2 linked regions of the Homo sapiens genome follow. The protein of the gene in region 1 purifies or fractionates together with the protein of each later gene. This does not show direct contact. Each region holds a gene or a part of one and is shown in the gene's direction. Other genes may lie near its edges.

Region 1 (5,702 bases):
TATTTACTATTATGAATTAAGTCAATGCCAGAAGAAAGAGCAAATAGAGTCTAAATTGGTTCCCTCTAGAAAGAGGGGATAAAGAAGTGGAGATGTATAGGACAGGGAACTCTTTATGTTATCAGCCTTCTAGTTCCATTTGACTTTCAAAACTATGTGCATTGTATAATTTTAATAAGAATTAGTTTAGGCCAGGCCCAGTGGCTCATGCCTGTAATCCCAACACTTTGGGAGGCCAAGGTGGGCAGATTCTTGAGCCCAGGAGTTTAAAACTAGCCTGGGCAACATGGCGAAACTTAGCCTCTACAAAAAATACAAAACTTAGCTGGGTGTGGTGGTGTCTGCCTACAGTCCCAGCTAGTTGGGAGGCTGAGGTGAGAGAATCACCTGAGCCCAGGAAGTCGAGGCTGCAGTGAGCTATGATCATGCCACTTCACTCCAGCCTGGGCAACAGAGTGAGACCCTGTCTCAAAAAGGGAAAAAAAAAAAAAAAAAAGAATTTGTTGAAAATCAATGTTTTATCAGATCTTACTAAAGTTCTGTGAAATTTCACTATAGTCATTTTGAAATGCTAATATATAAGAGCATTTCAACAAATTTGAGACAAATGATAGACTATCTTGAGAAACACTGAAATGATACTGGCTAGGAAAATCACTGAATGATGAACATTGCTCAGAGAAGGCTCCCTGGAAGAAGTGCATTATAAACTGGGATGATGTGTGTGCATAGAAAAAGGCCTTGGATAAAAAGTTCTAAAGGGAGAGTATGAAAATCAAACCAGGATTTTAGATTTTCCAAGGCTATCACTCTAGCTTTCTTAAATGTCCCACCAGGAACACTTATTCCTATGTCTCCACAGAGCTTCCTTGGGCTCCTCTGGACAATACTGGCATAGTATAAAAGGAATTTTTTCTTAGGTGATGGATTTATAGTCAAGGCAGGCATTTATGCTCGAAGGTATCTGAAAAGCATCGTATATCCACTAATTCATCAACTCAACACATACCCACTGATAACTACAACCTGTCAGACCAGAGCGAGGCACCACAGAGATGATGATGAAAATAACCAAGGTTTCTGGCCAAAGGACAACAGCTTGGGAAATGGGATTCCTACAGCAGCTGGCAGGACTATCATGGAACCCACCAAATCTTCCTAGGCCATGAATCTTAAAGTTCCAAATGTTTCCTCAGATTGGGAATGTGAACCCTAGACAACACTCATACCTCCCTGGCCCCCAGGCCAGGAAGTACAGGAAATTCTACTTTCACCATGATTAACGTGGAGGGTGCATAAAAAGACAAATGGATGCTTCCAACAGGGAAACTAAAATGTGTTTGTGAGGAGACAAGGCTAAAATGAAAGCAGCAACATTTAATCTAAACCATTTCCTGTGACTTGGATTTCTTTTTTAAAAAAATTGGCCGCCTTATCACTTTCTTAGTCACCTTTTCTCTAGGCTTATTGGAGGCGTAGCCCCTCCTAGCAACTTCCCATCTGCTGGAAAACAGAATCAAGAGAATGAGGAGTGTGATGACGCATCCTTCACTGGATGAAAATATTAGGAGAAAAGCAATAAATGCACTACCATTTGCATAAAACCTATTAATGCCCTCTTCAGACTAATGAAATGAATTTTACATCACCAAGAAAGCAGCTGTGACCCACTGCTCCTAGTATTTGGAACGATCTGCAACACTGCCACTCCTAAAAGCAACATCATTGACTTTAGTACCCTCTAATTAAAATACTTTCATTCTTGGACAGAGAAGACACATCTTGATCAAAATTCAGCTAATAGGTCTCCTCTTTGCTCAAAACGCTGTTAGGTTTCTTGTGTTCCTGTTTTTCTCATGCTCGTGCAGATCCATGGCATTTCAAACCTTTAAAATAAAAACTAATGTCTTTTCTATTTTTTTCCTACTGGCAATCACATTGGGGTGGTGGGGGCGTGTGGTACAATCTCAGTCAAGAGGTCCTCTCTTGTGTGGGTGCTGGCATAACACTGGCCGTATACAATGGCCAAGCAAAGCGACATTCTGTCCTGCTGTGCTTTACACGTAAATAGAGAATGGATGAGGTTCTCAGCGCCCAGGGGTCCGCGGCTTCCGCGAGGGTAGCGTCGGGGGCCGCTGCAGAGATTGGAAGAGTACCCGCCGGGAATGGGAGGGAAGACGCGGGGAAGGTGGAGAATAGGAATCATGTGTGTTCCTCGAGTGTACAACCCACATTTGAGTGACAAATCACGAGGACAATCGACAAAAACAACTAAGCGCAAAGCCGCCCGAATCCATCTCCCTCTCTGTGCGTGTGCCTTTTCAACTAACTTTGGGAACTCGTATAGACCCAGCGTCGCTCCCCGCGCCGCCTCGCCTCCACTTTGGTTTCCCGCGTCCTGCCCGCCCTCTTCGGTGCCTCCTCTTCCTCCGGGACAAGGATGGAGGATCTCTTTAGCCCCTCAATTCTGCCGCCGGCGCCCAACATTTCCGTGCCCATCTTGCTGGGCTGGGGTCTCAACCTGACCTTGGGGCAAGGAGCCCCTGCCTCTGGGCCGCCCAGCCGCCGCGTCCGCCTGGTGTTCCTGGGGGTCATCCTGGTGGTGGCGGTGGCAGGCAACACCACAGTGCTGTGCCGCCTGTGCGGCGGCGGCGGGCCCTGGGCGGGCCCCAAGCGTCGCAAGATGGACTTCCTGCTGGTGCAGCTGGCCCTGGCGGACCTGTACGCGTGCGGGGGCACGGCGCTGTCACAGCTGGCCTGGGAACTGCTGGGCGAGCCCCGCGCGGCCACGGGGGACCTGGCGTGCCGCTTCCTGCAGCTGCTGCAGGCATCCGGGCGGGGCGCCTCGGCCCACCTCGTGGTGCTCATCGCCCTCGAGCGCCGGCGCGCGGTGCGTCTTCCGCACGGCCGGCCGCTGCCCGCGCGTGCCCTCGCCGCCCTGGGCTGGCTGCTGGCACTGCTGCTGGCGCTGCCCCCGGCCTTCGTGGTGCGCGGGGACTCCCCCTCGCCGCTGCCGCCGCCGCCGCCGCCAACGTCCCTGCAGCCAGGCGCGCCCCCGGCCGCCCGCGCCTGGCCGGGGGAGCGTCGCTGCCACGGGATCTTCGCGCCCCTGCCGCGCTGGCACCTGCAGGTCTACGCGTTCTACGAGGCCGTCGCGGGCTTCGTCGCGCCTGTTACGGTCCTGGGCGTCGCTTGCGGCCACCTACTCTCCGTCTGGTGGCGGCACCGGCCGCAGGCCCCCGCGGCTGCAGCGCCCTGGTCGGCGAGCCCAGGTCGAGCCCCTGCGCCCAGCGCGCTGCCCCGCGCCAAGGTGCAGAGCCTGAAGATGAGCCTGCTGCTGGCGCTGCTGTTCGTGGGCTGCGAGCTGCCCTACTTTGCCGCCCGGCTGGCGGCCGCGTGGTCGTCCGGGCCCGCGGGAGACTGGGAGGGAGAGGGCCTGTCGGCGGCGCTGCGCGTGGTGGCGATGGCCAACAGCGCTCTCAATCCCTTCGTCTACCTCTTCTTCCAGGCGGGCGACTGCCGGCTCCGGCGACAGCTGCGGAAGCGGCTGGGCTCTCTGTGCTGCGCGCCGCAGGGAGGCGCGGAGGACGAGGAGGGGCCCCGGGGCCACCAGGCGCTCTACCGCCAACGCTGGCCCCACCCTCATTATCACCATGCTCGGCGGGAACCGCTGGACGAGGGCGGCTTGCGCCCACCCCCTCCGCGCCCCAGACCCCTGCCTTGCTCCTGCGAAAGTGCCTTCTAGGTGCTTGGTGGTCAGAGACGGGTCATCTGTCGCTAAGGCGCAACCTCCAGGGAACTCGAGGCCTGCCAGGGTCTGTCCAGATCACAAGGGGCAGGAGAGTCTGTGAGAGAGTGACACTGAAGTTGTCCCCTTCCTCCACTCTCCTATTCCCTTCTCATGTTTACATTTCCCTATGCTCTTCCAGTTTCTCTTCTTCCCTACAGTTCCTCTCATATCTCCCCATTTGGAGACAGTGAGCCACTGGAAAGTTGTAAAAACAAAAACAGTTATTTTTGCAGTTTTCTTTCACGCATTTATAGTGCTCTGGATAATGCCATTTATTTTTGCTGATTACCCAACTTTCAGTATTTGCTGTGTTATCATCTGTATTTACTTATTTTGAATCGTGCTTAAATCAAATGTACCTTCAGCACCTGCAAGTTTGCCTTTTCTTTCCAGGAGGAAAATCCCCACGTTGCTCTCCCTGGGGAGTCTGAGAATTATACCAGTGCTGTCAGAAATGTAATCATGCTGTCATTTCAGAGCCACAGAGTATTTATAAAATAAAAACCTTTCCCACGGAGCAATTGGGACTTTTTTTTTTTTAACATAGTAATGTATTTTCTCAGAAGAAAATCAGCGTGGCCTTTATTTCCAGTCTAGTTTCCACTTCAACAGAAGCTGAGGTTGTAGGAAGGAAACAAAAGCTTGACTTGGTGTCTTTCAAATATACTTGGTTTCTGTTGGAAATCGTCCCTGTGCCCCCAGCAGCCTCTAAAGGTGTAATGCTATGCCCAGATGGAGCCTCTCCGTACAAAGTCCCCAGCAAACCAGAGAAAGGAAGCTTCAAGGTGGTGCATATGGGTGGGGCTCAGTGTCCCAGATGGAGCCTCAAAGAGATTTGCAGCTAGGAAGGAAGTCAAAACCTCAGAATGCTGCATGTGTATATAAAACTCCCTTGTTAAAAAAATGAATTCAATGCCTGTTGGTGTGGATAGCTGAGAACAAGGTCAAGAGCGGATTTGATCAGTAACCTCTTCCTCTCAACTGTTCTTGGTTCTAGACAGAAGTGGCAGCACTTATGAACAATATATCCATGGGTTTATCAGTGATTTTTGTATGAGGATCTAAAGCTTTCCATTATAGTGTTTCTTGTTCATGCACAAATGCAGACCTAAGATGCAGAAAGGGGAAATGATTGTTTAAAGCTCTTTGTAGAGCCAATGCTGAGGGCTGTTTTGTTCACTAATATATTCCAAATGCTTAAACAATGCTTGACATGTAGTAGGCTCTCAATATATATTTGTTGAACAATTCATCATGTGAGTTAGAGATAGAACAAATAAAAGATATACGAAAGAAAATCTTTACTAAGCTTTCTTTACCTTCCTCCAAAATTTTGACAGCAGATGTTCCAGAGTTGTAGCTTTTCCTTCCTCTCTTTGTTCCTCCTTACCCTGTTGAGGATGCAATGGTCTGCAAAATACCAGGAATAAATCAGCCAAAGAGAGGATACAGTTGTCTTCATGAACCCAAGTCTAGATTATACCATTATTTATTCATTAATAAACATTTATTACCTGCTTATTTTGTGCCAGTTAATAAGCTAGGCATTGGAGATGCTGAGATGAATAAGTCACATTTTTCCCTCAAAGACGTTATAGTCAAATGTAGGAAACAATCTGACAATTACACTGCAGTGTCACCTGTGTTATAACAGGGGAATTCAGTCAGGGTGCCAGAAGAACTGAAGAGGAGAATCTGACAATCTTGGGGGACTATGAGGGGACATTAGGAAAGACTCACCAAAAGAAGCTCTTGAAGGCTGGTTTGGGGGTGACCCTTCAGGTCAGGAAAGGTGTTCTAGGCAACGGGAATAGCACTGCAAAGCATAGAAGAGACAGAACATAGCATAGTCAAGTAATGACAATAGCTTTAGGGTGCCTTTGGGGCCTGACCTAATGAGATACGTGGTCAG
Region 2 (5,036 bases), on another chromosome or scaffold:
AAATCCTTTGGAATGATGGAACATTTCATATCACTCCAACTTTTTTGGTTTTTGTTTTTAACGCCTGAACTTTGTAGATATGGCATTCGCCCTGAAAATGTGATTATATATGGCCAAAGTATAGGGACAGTACCGTCTGTGGATCTTGCTGCTCGATATGAGAGTGCTGCTGTTATTCTTCATTCTCCTCTGACTTCGGGAATGCGAGTTGCCTTTCCTGATACCAAGAAGACCTACTGTTTTGATGCATTCCCAAAGTAAGTAGCAATATTCAAAATAGTTAAATTCCAAGAAACTTGGGAATTTTTTCATCATTTAAAGTATTCATGACACAGTTCACTCAACCATAAACTTCATTTTATATATATTAGCACATAGAAATTATGAAAAATTAATTTGTAAAGAGGGTATTAGCAGGTGACCAGTCAGAAGGCTGAAATGTTTGAGGAGTAGTAATCCAGATGAAAATTGCTGAGGGCCTTACACCTCAGGTGGTGGCACTAGTATTGGAGACAAGGGAATTAATTTGAAACATAAATTTGACAGAACTGAGTATCAGACTGGGTGTAGGATGCTAAAGAGAAAAACTTGAACATGACTACCATGTTTCTGCCCTGAGGTGCTAATGGATAGGGCCATCCAGTGAGACACTTGATGTTAGAGAAGAACAGGTAGAAGCTAAAATGAGTAAATATCTGATTAATGATACCTAACTTACAAAAGAAGTGAATTGAAAAAAAGTTGAATCTTAAATTAACTAGATTAGTAAGTATTGCTGCCACAAAACCTGCAAACATACTTAGATGTATTTGAAAGGAAAGTAGCTACTTTTCCTTCATGCTTCTCAAGACAGGAGGTAGTTCCCACCTACTCTTCATAGTTGGAAAAAATTAATGGCCTATTTTTCTCAAGGAGAAGACAAGAAATAAGTTGGCAAATTTTAGTTTTCTCTCCTTTCTCCAATTGGCAGCAATACAAAGGATTTTTTTTGTGAATGGCCGATGGGCCAAAGGCAAAGTCATCACATGGTTCAAGAATTATTTTAAAAACACAGAATTTTCATCATTAGCCAGTAATGGATCACTTTAGTAGGGAAAGTATGTGAACACATGATCTTATCACAAGGGCAAGCTGTGGGCATGTTTGGGTTTTTATTTTGTTTTGGGTTTGTTTTTGTTTCAGGTAATGTGGGTATAGGCATTATACTGCCTCTGTCTAGCTGAATGGTAAAAATGATAGGGATGTATCTGAGTATCCCCATATCAGTGTTGTTGTCAACTTATGTCTCCATCTAGCTCCCTCTTTCATTTCTGGTGCACCAACAGAGAGCAACACTAAAAATAAACTGTTTGGCCAGGCACAGTGGTTCACGCCTGTAGTCCCAGCACTTTTGGAGGCCGTGGCGGGTGGATCACTTGAGGCCAAGAGTTCGAGACCAGCCTGGCCAACATGGTGAAACCCCGTCTCCACCAAAATTACAAAAATTAGCCAGGCATGGTGATGCGTGCCTGTAATCCCAGCTACTCGAGAGGCTGAGGCATGAGAATCCCTTGAACCTGGGAGACAGAGATGGCAGTGAGCCAAGATGGTGCCACTGCACTCCAGCCTGGGCGACAGAGCGAGACCCTGTCTCAAAAAATAAAAATAAACTGTTTGAAAAAGATAATATACTTCTTTTTATTTTTTATTCAAGTTTTAATTCCTCTACCGCTGAACATCTTTCTGACAACAGATAGTAAACCCAAGTATTTATTCTTACCAAATGCAGCCTTAGATTATTTCATTGATGGTTTTTTCATTGTCAACATTCCATTTTCATTTTATGTTTATTATAATACCTTTCTCTAAAGATTCTTAAAAAGAATTGTCTGTGTAGTTTCTGTGTCCTCCAAGTTGCCTTTTAAAAAAGTGTTTGTTTTGATTCCTCTGTTATTTGAAGTGTTCTCCTCTCATGTCTGATAATTCTTGGTTGCCTGCTTATATGTAAGTAAAGGAGCTGATCAACTCTTTACTCTTACATATAAGCAGACAATCAAGATTTAGCAGATCAACTAAAGGGCTGATCTGATAATAATCTCCAAAGAAGGCTCTTTCTTTCTTTCTTTCTTTCTTTTTTTTTCTGAGACAGAGTCTCGCTGCGACACCCAGGCTGGAGTACAATGGTGTGATCTTGGCTCACTGCAACCTCTGCCTCCAGGGTTCAAGTGATTCTCCTGCCTCAGCCTCGCGAGTAGCTGGGATTACAGGCATGCGCCATCATGCCTGGCTAATTTTTTTTTTTTTTTTTGTATTTTTAGTAGAGACGGGGTTTCACCATGTTGATCAGGCTGGTCTCGAACTCCTGACCTCAGGTGATCCACCCACTACGGCCTCCCAAAGTGCCGAGATTACAGGCATGAGCCACCGCACCTGGCCCAAAGAAGACTTTCTAAAAGTCCCTCCTGGAGGACAGTGGCCTGACTACCAGCATTCTGGGAGCCACATAGGGAAAATGGGTTCATAGTAGCCAGTATGTAAATGTATATGTTTCCATTGTCTCTATGATACCTCTGTTCTAAACTCTGGCAGTCTTCTAGTTCACAGACATTCCAGTCTTGGGGGCAGGCAGTTTCTGGGTATATGAACAGGCAAAAGGAACTGGGAAGGGGAGGCTAACTTTCTTACACAGACTTTGCAAAAATCCTGTATATTTCAATCACCCCCTTCATCACCATGGTAATTCCTTAGCTTTCTGGGGTATTCTGTTGTATAAATTGGTTTCGTTCATCACTTTACCATCTATCTGCCTAAAATTGTGTTTTCTTCTTTTAATAAATTGTTTCACACATTAATCTTCTTTCCAGCTCCAACATTTTATTATATTTTAGTACATTCTCCTTGTTTTTGTATCTTTATCCTCAAACAAGAACAAAAACATAAAACATTTTGCTGTCATTTTAGTAGGAGACTAGGAGAAAGAATATAGTGAGTGCAGAAAGTGAAATTAGCGCATACTTGAAATGGTTCTTAAATTTTCTCTTCTTCTGGACACCTAAGTTTCTCTGTGCCAAAAGTCAACATTGTAGAAAGGTACAGTAGAGTGACAAGAGCATTGAGTGATTCCAGCAAAACCATCAAAACAAGTGCATGAAAATAACTTCCTCAGATAATCTTAAGGTAGGGAGTATGTAAAAGGCAATTTTTGAATCTTACTGGAAATTCAGGAGACATTCTTACCTTCTGAACTGATTCATACAATTCTCATATTTGAATTATCTGTCTGATATAGCACAAGAATATGTTCCTTTACATAGTTAATTTATTGCATTTTTCCCCCTTCCTTTTTCCCTGCAGCATTGACAAAATCTCTAAGATAACCTCTCCAGTATTAATAATTCATGGGACTGAAGATGAAGTCATTGACTTTTCACATGGCCTCGCATTGTTTGAACGTTGCCAAAGACCTGTGGAGCCTCTCTGGGTTGAAGGAGCAGGTCACAATGATGTGGAACTTTATGGACAGTATCTTGAAAGGTTGAAACAGTTTGTGTCACAGGAACTGGTAAATTTGTAAAATATTCTGTAAATTTGCTACTGGGTTTTCCTTTCTTGCTGAACTGCACTCTTTGGTAAATAACATAAAACCTGAAGGTTTTGTTTGCAAATCATGTCAGTTGCCTTCATAAATGTACAGGTAATGATTTGTTAACAGACTTAATGAAGGTTTTAATTACCAGAACTAAAAACTGGAAATAACAGTACCGTGCAGTCAGGCTGTGTAATTTATATTTTTTCTGTGAATTTTTTTTTAACATCAAGATGAGTACTGTATGAGATTTTAATTCTATAAAATCAAATGCTGTAAAAGTATTGCCAAATGCTTTTGCATACTAGAAACAAATTTATAAATATTTTTAAAACATCTCAATATATTAAATCTTATCCTGGAATACAACTGTAATATTTTGAAAAAAGCTATGTATCTAAAGCAATTTAAGTACTCATAATGGAATGAACTGTAAAAGAGATTTAAAACCATGCAAGTTCACTAGAATTAACCTAAACCCTGTTGTACAGGGATAGAGGTTTAAAGTTATTTTATTGTAAAATACATTGAATTTTCTGTATACTCTGATTACATACATTTATCCTTTAAAAAAGATGTAAATCTTAATTTTTATGCCATCTATTAATTTACCAATGAGTTACCTTGTAAATGAGAAGTCATGATAGCACTGAATTTTAACTAGTTTTGACTTCTAAGTTTGGTACTGTGAGGCAAGTACTTAAAATTTTCATGCTGGTTACTTAAAAGGCATTTAGAGATTTCAAGAATGATTTTGTATACGATGTTTTAAATTTTGACTGATCTCATAGTCTTCATAGAATTGCAGTAGTCTTCATTGTATGAAATCCCGAAAGTCCATGAGTTGATCTTAAAGACCACTAACAGACTGGCTATCAGATCCCTTTTCACTTTGGCTATTTTTTTCATTTTTTGAGATGGAGTCTTGCTGTGTCACTGAGGCTGGAGTGCAGTGGCGCGATCTTGATTCACTGCAACCTCTGCCTCCCGGGATCAAGTGATTCTCCTGCCTCAGCCTCCTGAGTAGCTGGTATTACAGATGCTTGCCACCACGCCTGGCTAATTTTTGTATTTTTAGTAGAGACAGGGTTTTGCCATGTTGATCAGGCTGGTCTTGAACTCCTGACCTCATGATCTGCCCTTGGCCTCCCAAAGTGTCGGAATTACAGGCATGAGCCACTGCGCCTGGCCCACTTTAGCTATTTTTAAAAATAGGACCTATTGTTTTGGATTACTATCTGAGAATTTCATGGATTCACTCCTGGGTATAGGAGATAAGAATACGTTTAATTCATAACTTTTATATTAACCAATATAGTAAAAAAATAAAGCTCACACATACAAAAACTAAGTTGCCTTTCCTTGAATGAACCCTGTCTGAATAAAACAATGAAAAATAAAAATAAAATTAATGGTATGTAGTCTAATTTGTAAATGAATGAATATGGAAATAATACACACTGTGGATATA

Evidence for each region. Proteins that work in one complex are often made in the same cells at the same time.
Region 2: the proteins of GPR150 (region 1) and ABHD17B purify together in Homo sapiens (affinity purification with mass spectrometry; one large-scale study listed by BioGRID and IntAct). This does not show direct contact.

What each region holds. Positions count from the first base shown.
Region 1 is NC_000005.10:95,617,836-95,623,537, forward strand, and holds GPR150 (probable G-protein coupled receptor 150), read left to right. Parts: upstream 1-2,251; 5' UTR 2,252-2,440; coding exon 2,441-3,745; 3' UTR 3,746-4,307; downstream 4,308-5,702. UniProt on the Homo sapiens protein: Orphan receptor.
Region 2 is NC_000009.12:71,865,304-71,870,339, reverse strand, and holds part of ABHD17B (alpha/beta hydrolase domain-containing protein 17B), read left to right. Parts: intron 1-77; coding exon 78-257; intron 258-3,333; coding exon 3,334-3,553; 3' UTR 3,554-5,036. UniProt on the Homo sapiens protein: Hydrolyzes fatty acids from S-acylated cysteine residues in proteins. Has depalmitoylating activity towards DLG4/PSD95. Has depalmitoylating activity towards GAP43. Has depalmitoylating activity towards MAP6. Has depalmitoylating activity towards NRAS.